Linked DNA regions of Homo sapiens. The protein of the gene in region 2 interacts with the protein of the main gene of each other region in a pairwise test. Each region holds a gene or a part of one and is shown on either strand. Other genes may lie near its edges.

Region 1 (7,027 bases), on a different chromosome or scaffold from region 2:
GCCTGTAATCCCAGCACTTTGAGAGGCTGAGGCAGGAGGATCACTTGAGCCCAGAGGAAGGCTACAGTGAGCTATGATGATGCTACTACACTCCACCTCAATGACCAGAGCAAGACCCTGTCTCTAAAAAATAAAAATAAATCTTCAGGGGCTGCCCTGGCCCTGAAGGTCCTAGGTTCTTTTTTTTTTTTTTTTTTTTTTTGGAGACAGAGTCTTGCTCTGTTGCCCAGGCTGGAATGCAGTGGAATGATCTCGGCTTGCTGCAACTTCTGCCTCCCAGGTTCAAGTGATTCTCCTGCCTCAGTCTCCCAAGTAGCTGGGATCACAGGCATGCGCCACCACAACTGGCTAATTTTTGTATTTTTAGTAGAGACGGGGTTTCGCCATGTTGGCCAGGCTGGTCTCGAACTCCTGACCTCAGGTGATCCTCCCACCTCGGCCTCCCAAAGTGCTGGGATTACAGGCGTTGAGCCAGTGCACCCAGCCCAGGGTTCTTCACCCAGCTTCGAAGACTCTGCATCAACTGGCCCCAACCACCTTTCCCGCCTCAGCCCCTATCACTCCCACACTGCAGTTCCAGCCACCATGAAAGGGCAGGCCAGCAGAGGGTCCCAGCTCTGCCACTTACTAGCCACATGGGGGCCTTTGCATTAAAAAAGAAGAGTTTATAAAAGAAAATAATAAATTGGGTCAAAAGTGTGACCCATTCATTGCCTCATTCACTTATGACCACTGGAGTGACAAGGGGACAAAAGGTCATTGTGGGATCTTGGCTCTCACTCACTGTTTATAACTGATAATCAGCATCTTTTTTTTTTCCTGCTAATACTGTGGCTTGTCAAGATGAATCCAGGACTAAGAGGAAACCTTTTCACTTTGTAAGGCAGGAGGGGATCTTGCTGCTTTGCCTATGTGTGACTGTGTATCTGTGTGTACCTACGTGTACACATGCCACCACCAGCCAATTCACAAAGGGGTGCCCAGGCGAAATGACATTATTATTATTATTTGAGACAGGGTCTGGTTCTCTTGCCCAGGCGAAATGACATTATTATTATTATTTGAGACAGGGTCTGGTTCTCTTGCCCAGGCTGGAGTGTAGTGGTACGATGTCAGTTTACTGCCTTCCGAGCTCAAGCGATCCTCCCTTCTCAGCCTCCCAAGTAGCTGGGGCTACAGGCATGCACCATCACCCCTGAAAATTTTTGTATTTTTTGTAGAGATGGGGTTTCGTCATCTGGTTCACCCAGGCTGGTCTCAAACTCCTAGACTCAAGCAATCTGCTCAGCTTGGCCTCCCAAAGTGCTGGGATTACAGGTGTGAGCCATTGCGCCTGGCTGAAATGACATTATTTGCATGAGGGCAATGATGGCATGGGGCCTTTGCCAAGTTAGTGGAGAGAGATGAGTAGTCGACACAGGTCCCCTCCCAGGCCTCTGTGAGCCTCTATGCATTTTCTGACACACACTTTCCAAAAAGCCACAGAGATGCTTACTCATAGGCTATGCTTAGAATAGGAAATTTTATTTCTCTCTCAATTTCATTCCGATGTTTTAGCTTTGTTCTCTAGGCAACAAACAGTCCCTCTGGCTCAAGCGTTTCTAGAAATGAACAGATAATCAGAATGCCTCCTGCTCGCAGGCTCGAAAGTTAACAGTGTTATGAGCTACCTGTGGCTTGCACATTAAACGTCCCATCACAAGAAGGCGGTTGGGTTTTCAGGTGAACTTCACCTTTGGTAAATTTCACCCTCTGCAAGGCAGCCAGGCAGGAAGGTCCTAAACTTCCCACCCATCTCCTCACACCTATTGTACATCCCACCCAATCCTCCACCTCCCCTCCCTGCAGCCCAGGGAAAGGGCAGCCATTCGCTGTCAGAGGCGGTGACTGGCTTCTACCTGGGGACCCCAAAATGTCAGCCTGTTTGTCCTGCCTCATTGCCACCTCTCCTTCTATTGGAACATGCCCAAGTTTCTGCCACATGCAGACAACAGCTGACCCTTCTCTAAACCCTGTCTGCTTGCTATTGGCTTGGCCCTTTTGCTCTTTCACGGGCTGTGTGATACTGTCTCCCTCTCTCCACGCCTCAGTCTCCTTAAGTCGTGTGGCTCGGGTAGCAACAGCCCCCTCACATGTGAGGTGCTGAACACAGGGCCTGATGCCCTGTGTGATGTCCTTGATGCCGGCTCACCCCGGCAGCTGGCATGATCCCCACACCCTGCTCCTGCTGGCTGACACCCTGTGCCCTGGCACGGCCTGTTTCCCATTCCCAGATCACCCTTTCCTCCTCCTTCAGTATGAAGAGCTGGGCATGGTGTGGGCACCTAGGGAGGCCCCAACAAATGTTTGCTCTCATGGTTACATTATTGTCATCATCATTGCATGTCTCTTCCCCTAGATAGCCTTCTCAGCGCTCCCCAGGAAGAAGCAACCGCTCCCCAACACGTGTGACCACTTTGACTCTAGAACTTCTTTTCTGCCATCATGATCTCTATATCTGAGTGCATCTCCCCCATCAGCCTGAGAGCTCAGAGGGGTTGAGTCCGCCTGCTCTGTGATGCGGACGGGCGGGGGAGTCCAGCTGAGAGCAAGCTCAGCAGGCTGGCGCCCCACTTCCCACCCTTTCTGTGGGTAGGAGGATGGCATAACCCCTCTCCTTGTGCAGGCTCCCTGGGCCTACAACTGGCCCAAGAAGGAGGGAAGTCGCTGGCCCTGCCAACAGCTGCCTGGGCTCTCCTCTTTCTGGATACTTTTTTTTTTTTTTTTTTGAGACGGAGTCTCACTCTGTCGCCCAGGCTGGAGTGTAGTAGCGCTATCTGGGCTCACTGCAAGCTCCGCCTCCCGGGTTCACGCCATTCTCCTGCCTCAGCCTCCCGACTAGCTGGGACTACAGGTGCCCACCACCACACCTGGCTATTTTTTTGTATTTTTTAGTAGAGACGGGGTTTCACTGTGTTAGCCAGGATGGTCTCAATCTCCTGACCTCATGATCCACCCACCTTGGCCTCCCAAAGTGCTGGGATTACAGGTGTGAACCACCGTGCCTGGCCTTTTTTTTTTTTTTTTTTGAGATGTTGCCCAGGCTAGAGTGCAATGGTGTGATATCTCGGCTCACTGCAACCTCCGCCTCCCTGGTTCAAGAGATTCTCCTACCTCAGCCTCCCGAGTAGCTGGGATGACAGGCATGCACCAGCATGCCCAGCTAATTTTTTTTGTATTTTTAGTAGAGACGGGGATTCACCATGCTGGCCAGGCTGGTCTCGAACTCCTGACCTCAAGTGAGCTGCCTGCCTTGGCTTCCCAAAGTGCTGGGATTACAGGCGTGAGCCACCATGCCCAGCCTTCTTTCTGGATACTTGCCCTCTGCTCCCACAAACTCTGCTCTCAGGAATGGAGCTGGCATCAGCCACGTACACTCACGTCTGAATCTGGCCCTGGTGCCTCTCCTGGAGCCTCCTGCAGTAGAAACCTTTTGTTCAAAACCTATCTCAGGCTGGGTGTGGTGGCTCATGCCCGTAATCCCAGCACTTTAGGCCGAGGTGGGTAAATCACTTGAGTCTAGGAGTTGGAGACCAGCCTGGGCAACATGATGAAACCCCATTTCTACAAAAAATACAAAAATTAGCTGGGCATGGAGGCACGCCTATAGTCCTAGCTACTCGGGAGGCTGAGGTGGGAGGATTGCCCGAGCCTGGGAAATTGAGGCCGCAGTGAGCCACTGCACTCCAGCCTGGATGACAGAGCAAGACCCTCTCATAAACAAACAAACAAACAAGCAAAAAAAGCCTATCTCAGGCCCTGGCTCAAGTCTGTTCCTCCCCATCTCTGCAGGGCTCCTATCTCTGTTAGTGGGGCCTCTAGCCCCCTAAACTCCCTCCTGAATCAGGCAGCCCAACCAGTCTATGAGATCAGCTCGCCTGTCAGAGCCATCAGTAAATCTGTCGGCATGTTGGCTCACACCTGTAATTCCAGCACTTTGGGAGGCCCGGAGGGAAGATCACTTGAGGCCAGGGGTTTGAGACCAGCCTGGGCAACATAGTGAGCCTGTTTCTAAAAAAAAAAAAAAAAAAAAAAAAAAATTAAAAATTAGCCAGGACGGTGGCATGAGCCTGTAGTCCCAGCTACTCAGGAGGCTGAGGCACAAGAATTGCTTGAAACCAGGAGGCAGAGGTTGCAATGAGCTGAGATTGCACTGCTGCATTCCAGCCTGGGCGACAGAGAGAGATTGTCTCAAAAAAAAAAATAATAAAATAAAATTTAAAAATTATAATTTACAAATTATGTATCCTCTGCAAGGCCCCAGGGCTAGGTTCCAGGAACATAGAATTGCCCCAAATCTGTCTGGCAGGCAGCAGACAGGTAACCAGGTGGTGATCATACATGGCATTTGGAACCATGATAGGGGGAGCAGAGGATACCGCAGGAGCCCAGAGCAAGGACTCAACCTCCCAGGGGTCAGGAGTTAAGACTAGGGAGGGAGGGAAGGAGGGAGCTGGCAGGAGTCAAGATGCAGCCCGATGCCAGGCACATGCCACTCCATGCCCAAGTGCCTGAGGCCTGGCCGGCCATTGCCCCTCCTGCAGGCTGGGGCTGCCTGGGTCCCAGTGTGAGAAGCACTGACTCTTTCTCAGCAGGGGCAGCATGGGCCTTGAGGTTAGGACCTTCACAGCCCTGTGGCCTGCACAGGGGTGCCCACAGGTCAGGTTTCCCAGTGCAGACTCATGCCCAGAGCTCATGCCTGTGCTCAGCCTCTAGCTCTCATGTAACCTGAGGGCAAAAAATAGAACTGGGTTTTGACCCTGCCTTGGAGCCAGGGAGGATAGAGATAGGGCCTCTGTGTCAGCTCTGAATACGCCAGGGCAGGGCTGAACTCTGACTTCAATCTTCCCTGGCTGTGGGCTGTCATCAATCCCAGCCCAGCACTCTTGGTGTGCCCACTTCCTTCTCCCAGGCCTGGGTCACAGGATCTCAGGGCGAAGGGAGAGCAAGAGGCCCCTTGGACTCCATCAACTCCAACTCTCCTCCACTGACAGATGAGGAAACTGAGGCCCAGATAAAATCCCAATATGCCCAAGGTTGCCCAGCAAATATGAGCAAAGGTATGGCTGGAACCCAGGCCTCCCCACCCTGAGTGGGCACCCTGGCCTCCCCTATGTCTCCTTGGGTTGAGGCAGAGAGAGGATAGAGGCTGCGACTCAGATGCCCCTCAGTAGGAAAGGCAGGAAGCCAGCCTTCGCCCTCAGGCAGAATGATCTAGTGGGTCTGGGCCTGGAGCCTCGGCCCTAAACTGCCCAGAGCCCTGCTGCCCTCTTTCATCAGAGCCAGCATCTGGAGTCACATAGACCATGCTTCACATCATTAGGGACCCCGTGACCTCTGTGCAAATCATGAACTTCTTTCTTTCTTTCTTCTTTTTTTTTTTTTTTTTGAGATGGAGTCTAGCTCTGTCCCTAGGCTGGAGTGCAGTGGCGTGATCTCGGCTCACTGCAACCTCTGCCTCCTGGGTTCAAGTGATTCTCCTGCCTCAGGTTCCCGAGTAGGGGGGATTACAGGCAGGCGCCACCACGCCCAGCTAATTTTTGTAATTTTAGTAGACAGGGTTTCACCACGTTGGCCAGGATGGTCTTGATCTCCTGACCTCGTGATCCTCCCACCTCTGTTGCGGGAAGTCAGGGACCCCAAACGGAGGGACCAGCTGAAGCCATTGCAGAAGAACGTGGATTGTGAAGATTTCATGGACATTTATTAGTTTCCCAAATTAATACTTTTGTAATTTCTTACGCCTGTCTTTACTGCAATCTCTGAACATAAATTGTGAAGATTTCATGGACACTTATCACTTCTCCAACCAATACCCTTGTGATTTCCTATGCCTATCTTTAATCTCTTAATCCCATCATCTTCGTAAGCTGAGGAGGCTGTATGTCGCCTCAGGACCCTGTGATGATTGCGTTAACTGCACAAATTGTAGAGCATGTGTGTTTGAACAATATGAAATCTGGGCACCTTGAAAGAACAGGATAACAGCAATGTTCAGGGAACAAGAGAGATAATCTTAAACTCTGACTGCCGGTGAGCCGGGTGGAACAGAGCCATATTTCTCTTCTTTCAAAAGCAAATGGGAGAAATGTTGCTGAATTCTTTTTCTCAGCAAGGGACATCCTTGAGAAAGAGAATGCGTCCCTGAGGGTAGGCCTCTAAAATGGCTGCTTCTGGGGGGCGGCCATCTTTTATGGTCGAAGCTGTAGGGATGAAATAAGCCCCAGTCTCCCATAGCGCTCCCAGGCTTATTAGGACGAGGAAATTCCCGCCTAATAAATTTTGGTCAGACTGGTTGTCTGCTCTCAAACCCTGTCTCTTGATAAGATGTTATCAATGACAATGCGTGCCCGAAACTTCATTAGCAATTTTAATTTCACCCCGGTCCTATGGTCCTGTGATCTGGCCCTGCCTCCATTTGCCTTGTGATATTCTATTACCTTGTGAAGCACGTGGTCTCTGTGACCCACATCCTATTGGTACACTCCCTCCCCTTTTGAAAATCACTAATCAAAACTTGCTGGTTTTATGGCTCAGGGGGCATCACGGAACCTGCCGACATATGATGTCTCCCCCGGACACCCAGCTTTAAAATTTCTCCCTTTTGTACTCTGTCCCTTTATTTCTCAGACCAGCTGACACTTAGGTAATACAGAAAAGAACCTACGTGAAATATCAGGGGTGAATTTCGCCCGATATCTGGCTGAATTTCCCCCAATACACCTCAGCCTCCCAAAGTGCTGGGATTACAGGTGTGAGCCACTGCGCTGGGCTGAACTTCTTTCTTTTTCTTGAGACAGAGTCTCATTCTGTCGCCCAGGCTGGAGTGCAGTGGTGTAATCTCAGCTCACTGCAACCTCCTTCTCCCGGGTTCAAGGAATTCTTATGCCTCAGCCTCCCCAGTAGCTGGGATTACAGGTGCATGCCACCTGGCCCGGCTAATTTTGAGACAGAGTTTCACTCTTGTTACCCAGGCTGGAGTGCAATA
Region 2 (7,027 bases):
TTCTTCATTTACATGTGTGTGATCTCTGCTCTACATAACTTCTAGACTTGGACTCCCTTAGGCTGCGGGATTCCGTGAACCGAGATGGGGCTGTGGCCAGAGAGCACACTGGGGGTAACCCTGCAGGGGAGGTTCCACAGACAACAGCCACCTGCGGAGGACAGCTGGCAATGAAGGGCCTGGAAGCCACAGAGAAGCCTGTGCTGTTCCTCTAGAGCAGGGGCCAGCAAACTATGGCCTGCGGGCCAAAGCCTGCCCACTGCCTGCTTTTGAAAATAAAGTTTTATTGGCATGCAGGCATGCTCATTTGCTTACATGTTGTCTATGGCTTTTTCCCATTACAAAGACAATGTTGAACAATTGCAACAAGGACCATATGATCCTCAGAAAGATACTTACATGTAGGAATATTTGCTGTCAGCCCTTCACAGAGGAAGGCTGCAGCCCCCACTCCAAAATTCTGTTCTTTTATAGATAGGAGAAGTCTTTGTTGGTGGCTGCCTAACTGGAATTTGTGGAGCTGGAAGGAGACCTGATGGTCTTGACTCAGCTCAATGTCCCCGAGTCCCCCAGCCTCCTAGTTATGTAGAGGAGGTGGTGAGGGGAAGTGTTGGGGAAGCACAGGCCTGGCTGGTCCCTGGGACCATGTTGATGGGAACCTTGGGGCCTGCTGGGAAAACATGACCACAATTCCAAGTCAGCAGAGACTTGCAGACCAGAGAAAACCGTGGCTCCTCCTGACTCCCTGTCCACACCTTCCACTCACTTCTGAAACCCTCAGTCTGGGCCTTGCACACGAGCACCCTCCCCAGGTTGCTCGCCTGATGGGCATCAACAGCCTCTCACTGGCTAAGAGCCTCGTCCAGCCTCCCCCCTGAGCCTCCTAGGGGCCCTGCCACACTCAACACTCTCAAACCCCCTCCCCAGCTGATTCTACAACCCTGGTGTCCTCCAAGACCCTGGTTTGGTTTTCTGTCTCCTTCCAAGGCTCCAGTTGTCTGCCTGGCCCTCAGTGTTGCTGAACCAGGGGTCCAGCTATACTCCCTTCTCTGTAACAATTCCCTCTGCTTTTTCTCCCTAAGAGCCTCATCCCTGACATGATTCCAGTCACCATGTTGGAAGATGCCTCCACGTCCACACTTGCATTGGCCTCTGGCCTGAGCCCTGCACGGCGTCAGACTGCCCACTGGACACTATGCAAGAGTCCCACTGCGTCCTCAAGCCAGGTGTTCCCGGCCTGAGCTCATCTTCCTGTCAACCCCAGGGCTGTCTTCTCTTCCCCACACCATGTCCAACCCACACGGACCCTGCTGGCCTCTCTCTCAGCCCCTCCATCTCTGCCTCCCCGTACCTGCTCCCTCCTCTGGACTCAGCACTCCGTCCTCAGTGGGTCTCTGCCCGCTGTCTCTCTGCACCTCTAAGTCACGCTGGCATGGGGTCTGTCAAGAAGGCAAGTCTGCACTCGTCCAGACCCTTTGGCACAACATCAAGGGCCACAGCTAGTCTTGTGCCCCATTTCTGCCCCTCCACCTTGCCCCCAGCCCTGCGGGCTCTTCCTGGACATCTCGCCTCCAGGGACTTCAGCATCACTTCCCTGCCTGGCCAAATCTTGCTCATTGTCCAGACTCGGCTTAGGGACCACCCGCCCTTGGAGGCTTTCCTGAAACTCCGTGCTCCAGGGAGATGCAGCTGCAAGTCAGCTGGGAACTGTGCTCAGAACACTGTCGGACTGGTCTCGGTTAGTTGGGTGTGTGTCTGCCTCCTTCACTAGGCTCTCAGCTTACTAAAGGCGAGCTTCTAGTCATCTGAATGTCTGGACCAAGAAGGCCTAGCATGGCCTAGCACGTGCTCAGTACACTTTGTCGACTTCCAGCGATAGCTTTACAAGTGCTCACTCAGAGCCTCTGATGTGGAAGTGGCCTGAGGGGACCTGAGGTTGGTGCCGCACATCATCTCAGCATGAGGAAAAGCTCTGCAGTGCCCACGAACCCTCCTCACCTCTGACCCCGGCAGAGTGCAGGAGTTGGTACCCCCAGAGCTCACAGGTGCCAGGCCTTTGATCTTTAAGAAGGACCCATTCCAAGGCCTTTATGAATCCCCAAATCCAAGAATGACAAAGAATATATATATATATATATACATATAGAAATATATACGTGTATATGTATATGTACATGCATATATAAATATGTGTGTGTGTGTGTGTGTGTATTTTTTTTTTTTTGAGATGGAGTCTCGCTCTGTTGCCCAGGCTGGAGTGCAGCAGCGCGATCTTGGCTCACTGCAACCTCCACCTCCCGGGTTCAAGTGATTCTCCTGCCTCAGCCCCCCGAGTAGCTGGGATAACAGGCATATGCCACCATGCTCGCTCAGCTAATTTTTGTATTTTTAGTGCAAATGGGGTTTCACCATGTTGGCCAGGCTGGTCTCGAACTCCTGACCTCAAGTGATCTGCCCGCCTCAGCCTCCCAAAGTGCTGAGATTACAGGTGTGAGCCACCATGCCCAGCCAAAAAAAAAAATATTTAAATTATTTACAAAATGGTTTTTAAAACTCTCTAAATGTATCCCCTTCAAAGTTGTAATAAACCTTTGACTATAACACTGAAGTCACATATGAAACTATTACATAACATTCTCTATTAAAATGAACTTCTAAGAATGAGCCTCGTCATGACAATTAACTTCCTTTGGGCAGCCCTTTCACCATGAGCTTGCAACGTCTCCAGCTAAGGTGCAACAAGCACTTGGGAGCACTCGCCCCTCTAGCCTTTCCACAGAAGGTACTCAGCACATTTCTCAGAAAAAAAAAAAAAAGTGGCTTATAGCAATTATGGATGTTCAGGGCCCCTTGGCCACAGCTGAAACACAAACAGTCAATCCCAGTGCCCTAGCCAGCCACCAAGCTGTCTGTAATGGTAGCCGCCAGCCCCCGTACTGCTGAGCACTTGCAGTGTGGCTGGGAGACTTAGGAACTGAAACTTTAATCAGTTAAGATGTAAACAACCACAGTGCTTAATGGCTGCTGTGTTGGGCTCTGGAGATGTATAACAATCTCATCACCCCAGGATCCTCTGTTAGACAGCACGGGTGTACTGCATTTGATTCATAAGAACACCGCCTGCATATAATCCAGACCAATACATTTTGCAAGGATATTTCAGAAGAAGAGAGATTACTTTTACATTGGGAGAGACAGTCTTTGTCAGCCCAGGAAGGAGGCTTGGCTCTGCTTTGCTAGGGACCCTGCCCTGGGCCGATGGAGCTCGTACCAGTGTAGATGCCCAGGAGGGTGTAGACCAGCTGCTGGGAGGGCCTCTGGGTGCTGTTGGTGGTTGTGGTGGCCATCAGGCAGTCACTGGCCCCACAGGACGTGAGCTGCTCTTCTGGAAGGGTCTCTATGAAGTCAGAGTGGACAGGAGACATGAGATGACGGCAAATGTGACAAGATGTAGGTTCTTGAGAAATCAAAGTGACAGTGGAAAGGACATTGGACACCTGGGGGGAGGCATCACTACAGGTCACGTGGAAAGACCCAGTGTCTCAAAATAGATTTAGATCGAGTCTAGGCACATGTCCCTAGACTCGATTTAAGACACTTTGGGAGGTGGAAAATCCTATTCGTGTTCTGCAAAGATTCAGGGAAGAATGAACTTGGAAAAGTGCTGGTTACTTGTTTTACTGCTTTTCTGACATAATTAAAATTTTTCAAGTTTTCAAAATTAGTCAAAAAGAAAAAAGTACATGAGATTGGGTGCCAGGAATGCTGGATTCTCTTTCAGATTCATCTGTTACCAACTCAATGACTTTGGGCAGGTGATTTCATAACTTTTCTGTTTTTGAAAACTAACGTTAGTTCTGTGATCTCTTAGAAAAATACAATTTGAATTAGCAATGACTCTCAGTCAGAAGTCCTGTCAGAATCTCTGGGGAAAGGAGAAAGATGTGGTGGGAGAAAGAATATTCAGTGTTTTTATTATTTTAATAACACAAATTATATAACAGACAGCTTCACAAAATCTTCTAGGTGGGTGAGATGTGCAGCTGATAAGAGAAGGTACAAGAAGGTGGAGAAGCACACGACGCCCTCCAAATCCCTCCAGCCCCAGATTCTGTGTCCTGTGCTGACTTGGAGAACTAACTCACCTGCAGAAAGGTCTTCGAAAGAAATGCCTGTTCCTCCACTTCACTGGCCGTGATATGCAGACTGAGCTGTAACCCCAGTTTCTGTTTCATTGTTGCTGACACCAACAGCAATAATGAGTAAAAATTGCTATGCATCACCTTCACGGCTTCCCTTCTTCAAATGCACTTAGCAGGCATGACATCGCATGAGAAAAAGGGAGAGGGGTTTTGGCTACAGAGTTTACCAAGCGTGGGATTTTTATGGGATAGCAAGATGGAGAACCTTGATGAAGTGATAGAAATAGTTGTGATACTAGTCAGGAGGGCTGGATTGGTTTTTACCCCGTTGGGAAAGTTTTCCTGTAAGCATGAAAGAGATGTATGTCCTCTGCCCTGTGCTTAAAGCCTCAACGTGGGCACTAAGGTCATGGGCACAAATGAGATATGCACTTTATATTTATACCAGGGCAAGGTCGGGTAGAGACAGAGGAGCCAGGGCATCAGCCCATCCAATGTCCACATCTGTCATGGGATAAGGGGCCTGTCATAAAACATTTGAAAATCTGGTCATTGTATCAAGTCACAGGGAAAAGAAATCAGGCAACCCCATCCTTAGTCTAAAAAGGACAGTTGTGCAGTTGAGACTCCATGAACACAAATTCTACTGGCGTGGCCCTCAGTTTCCCATGGCGCCCTCTCCCAAGGGCTCCCCTGCCCCTGCGGAGGCACCTGTGGAAGACGCAGATCTTCTTCAGTCCCACCCGACTGTCCAGAAGACAGCAGGTAACAGGCAACTCTGAAGCACAGGCAGGTTGAGAATCTCACCTGTGGGGCCTGACTCACCTGCTCAAGTTACAGAATCAAGGCAGGTGTGCAACTGAAATCAGGAACCCTCTCCCCCATCACTGAAACCCCTGCTCCACTTGGAGACAATTGCTTGCCCCTTTTCCTTTTACCTTGGCTGGGAGTCTGGCCAAATACCAGCGATGAGATCAAGTTGCCCCACACACCGGATGACTGGAATATGAGGAAGAAGATGCCAAAATACTGGTTCACCATGTCTTTGCCACGCTTTCCCGCCTTCTCTGCATGTGTGTTTCCCGTGATCGTGAGGTATGTGCACTGTGCAGACCACAGCGGGGCGGCCCCGAGTCCCAGCAGTATGGAGGTGGGGATCAAAGTGTACCTGTGGGTAAAATGCAGACCCATAGCCTGTAACAGGAGACGCAAGCCCATTGCACCCATGTCCCTGCAGTTCTTTAGTCAATCTGGGAGAAGGAACCACCGCCTGGCCCATTGCAAGCGTGGTGATGAGTGTTGCTGGTTGGATGGATGGATTCACCATTACACTCAGAAAAATGAGCAATATCAGTGCATTTCCTAGCTTGGACTGATTTGCAAAAGTGAAATTGAAGCCAGTGAGGCTCCTTGTATCGGATGCGATTGCAAACAACAAGGTGAGGAGCACGAGGGAGGCGAGGAGCACGAGGAAGGCGAGGAGCACGAGGGAGGCGAGGAGCACGAGGCAGGCGAGGAGCACGAGGCAGGCGAGGATCACGAGGGAGGCGAGGAGCACGAGGCAGGCGAGGAGCACGAGGGAGGCGAGGAGCACGAGGGAGGCGAGGAGCACGAGGCAGGCGAGGATCACGAGGGAGGCGAGGAGCACGAGGGAGGCGAGGAGCACGAGGCAGGCGAGGAGCACGAGGCAGGCGAGGATCACGAGGGAGGCGAGGTTCACGAGGGAGGCGAGGAGCACGAGGGAGGCGAGGAGCACGAGGGAGGCCGAGGATCACGAGGGAGGCGAGGAGCACGAGGGAGGCGAGGAGCACGAGGGAGGCCGAGGGACAGCCCCGGTTAAAAAGACCTAGTGACCGGCTCGGGCCTCAGCGGCGGCATGCCATGTAAGACTCTGCAGCTACCGGGAAGAAGGACTTGCAGCCATCATCAGCAGCATGTCCTGGCACAACCAGGGTCCCTGGAAGAGATGCTCCATGGCTGTGTTCCCGGGGCCTGGGGTGCAGGCCAAAGCCCTCAGAGCTCAGTCTCTGTGGTCCATCTCACCAGGGAGCAGGGTGGCCTCCCATCCCTGTGACCTGCCCTGGCCATACCCACCTCCTAATGGTGGGCGAGGTGCAGCTTTCGGTCCATTGGTGACATCTGCCTAGGTGCCCACGAGACTCACCATCTGCATTGCAGTTAGAGTCCCCTGTGTTACTGGAACCCTCGCCCAGCCAGGGGAGCTGAGGACCAGGACGGATCCCAGGGAGAGGCCAGCATCGGGGATCGGGAGGAGGAGACAGAAGCAGTGGGGGGCACAGAGGAGCCTTGGTGGGAAAACAGGAAGGAAGCCCAGCACCGTCTGTCACCAAAGCGAGGCGGGGGTGCAGGGGCAGGAGAGCTCATTTTAAAATGCCTGCAGTGAACAGTAATCAGGTGCAAATGCAACTCATGTGCAGAGTGAACGTCCCTAGCGTGGGGAACGGCCGGGGTGGGGTGGGCAGGGGGTGGTGGCTGCGTACCAGCTGGCGAAGAAGTTGCCCACGGAGAAGGCCACGTAGCCACACATGGAGAGGATGATGGTCCCCTTGCAGCCCAGCCTCTCGATGAGGAGCGGTGGGAGGAACATGGAGGACAGGAGCATGCCTCCATAGAGGGTGCTGAGCGCTGTGACACCCAGGCCCTCCTCGCTGTACAGGCTGCTCTGTGGGAACAAAGCCAGCCCTGTCAGAGCACAGGATGGACACAGCGGGATGAGGCACCAGCAGGTCCTCAGTGTCCCCCAGGCTGGAGGCCGCCACAGCTCCCAGGAACCGCCAGCCACAGGCTTGCTGCCCTGGGAGCCTCCTCTGAAGCTGGTGGGAGAAAAGTGCAGGTGAATTCGGAATAAAGCAGTTAGTGTGTCT

The links.
Region 1: the proteins of UNC93A (region 2) and SLC35E4 interact in binary tests that used the Homo sapiens proteins (3 or more experiments, as listed by UniProt).

The regions. Positions count from the first base shown.
Region 1 is NC_000022.11:30,638,771-30,645,797, reverse strand, and holds part of SLC35E4 (solute carrier family 35 member E4), read right to left. Parts: intron 1-7,027. UniProt on the Homo sapiens protein: Putative transporter.
Region 2 is NC_000006.12:167,294,315-167,301,341, reverse strand, and holds part of UNC93A (protein unc-93 homolog A), read right to left. Parts: intron 6,826-7,027; coding exon 6,644-6,825; intron 5,311-6,643; coding exon 5,081-5,310; intron 3,398-5,080; coding exon 3,272-3,397; intron 1-3,271.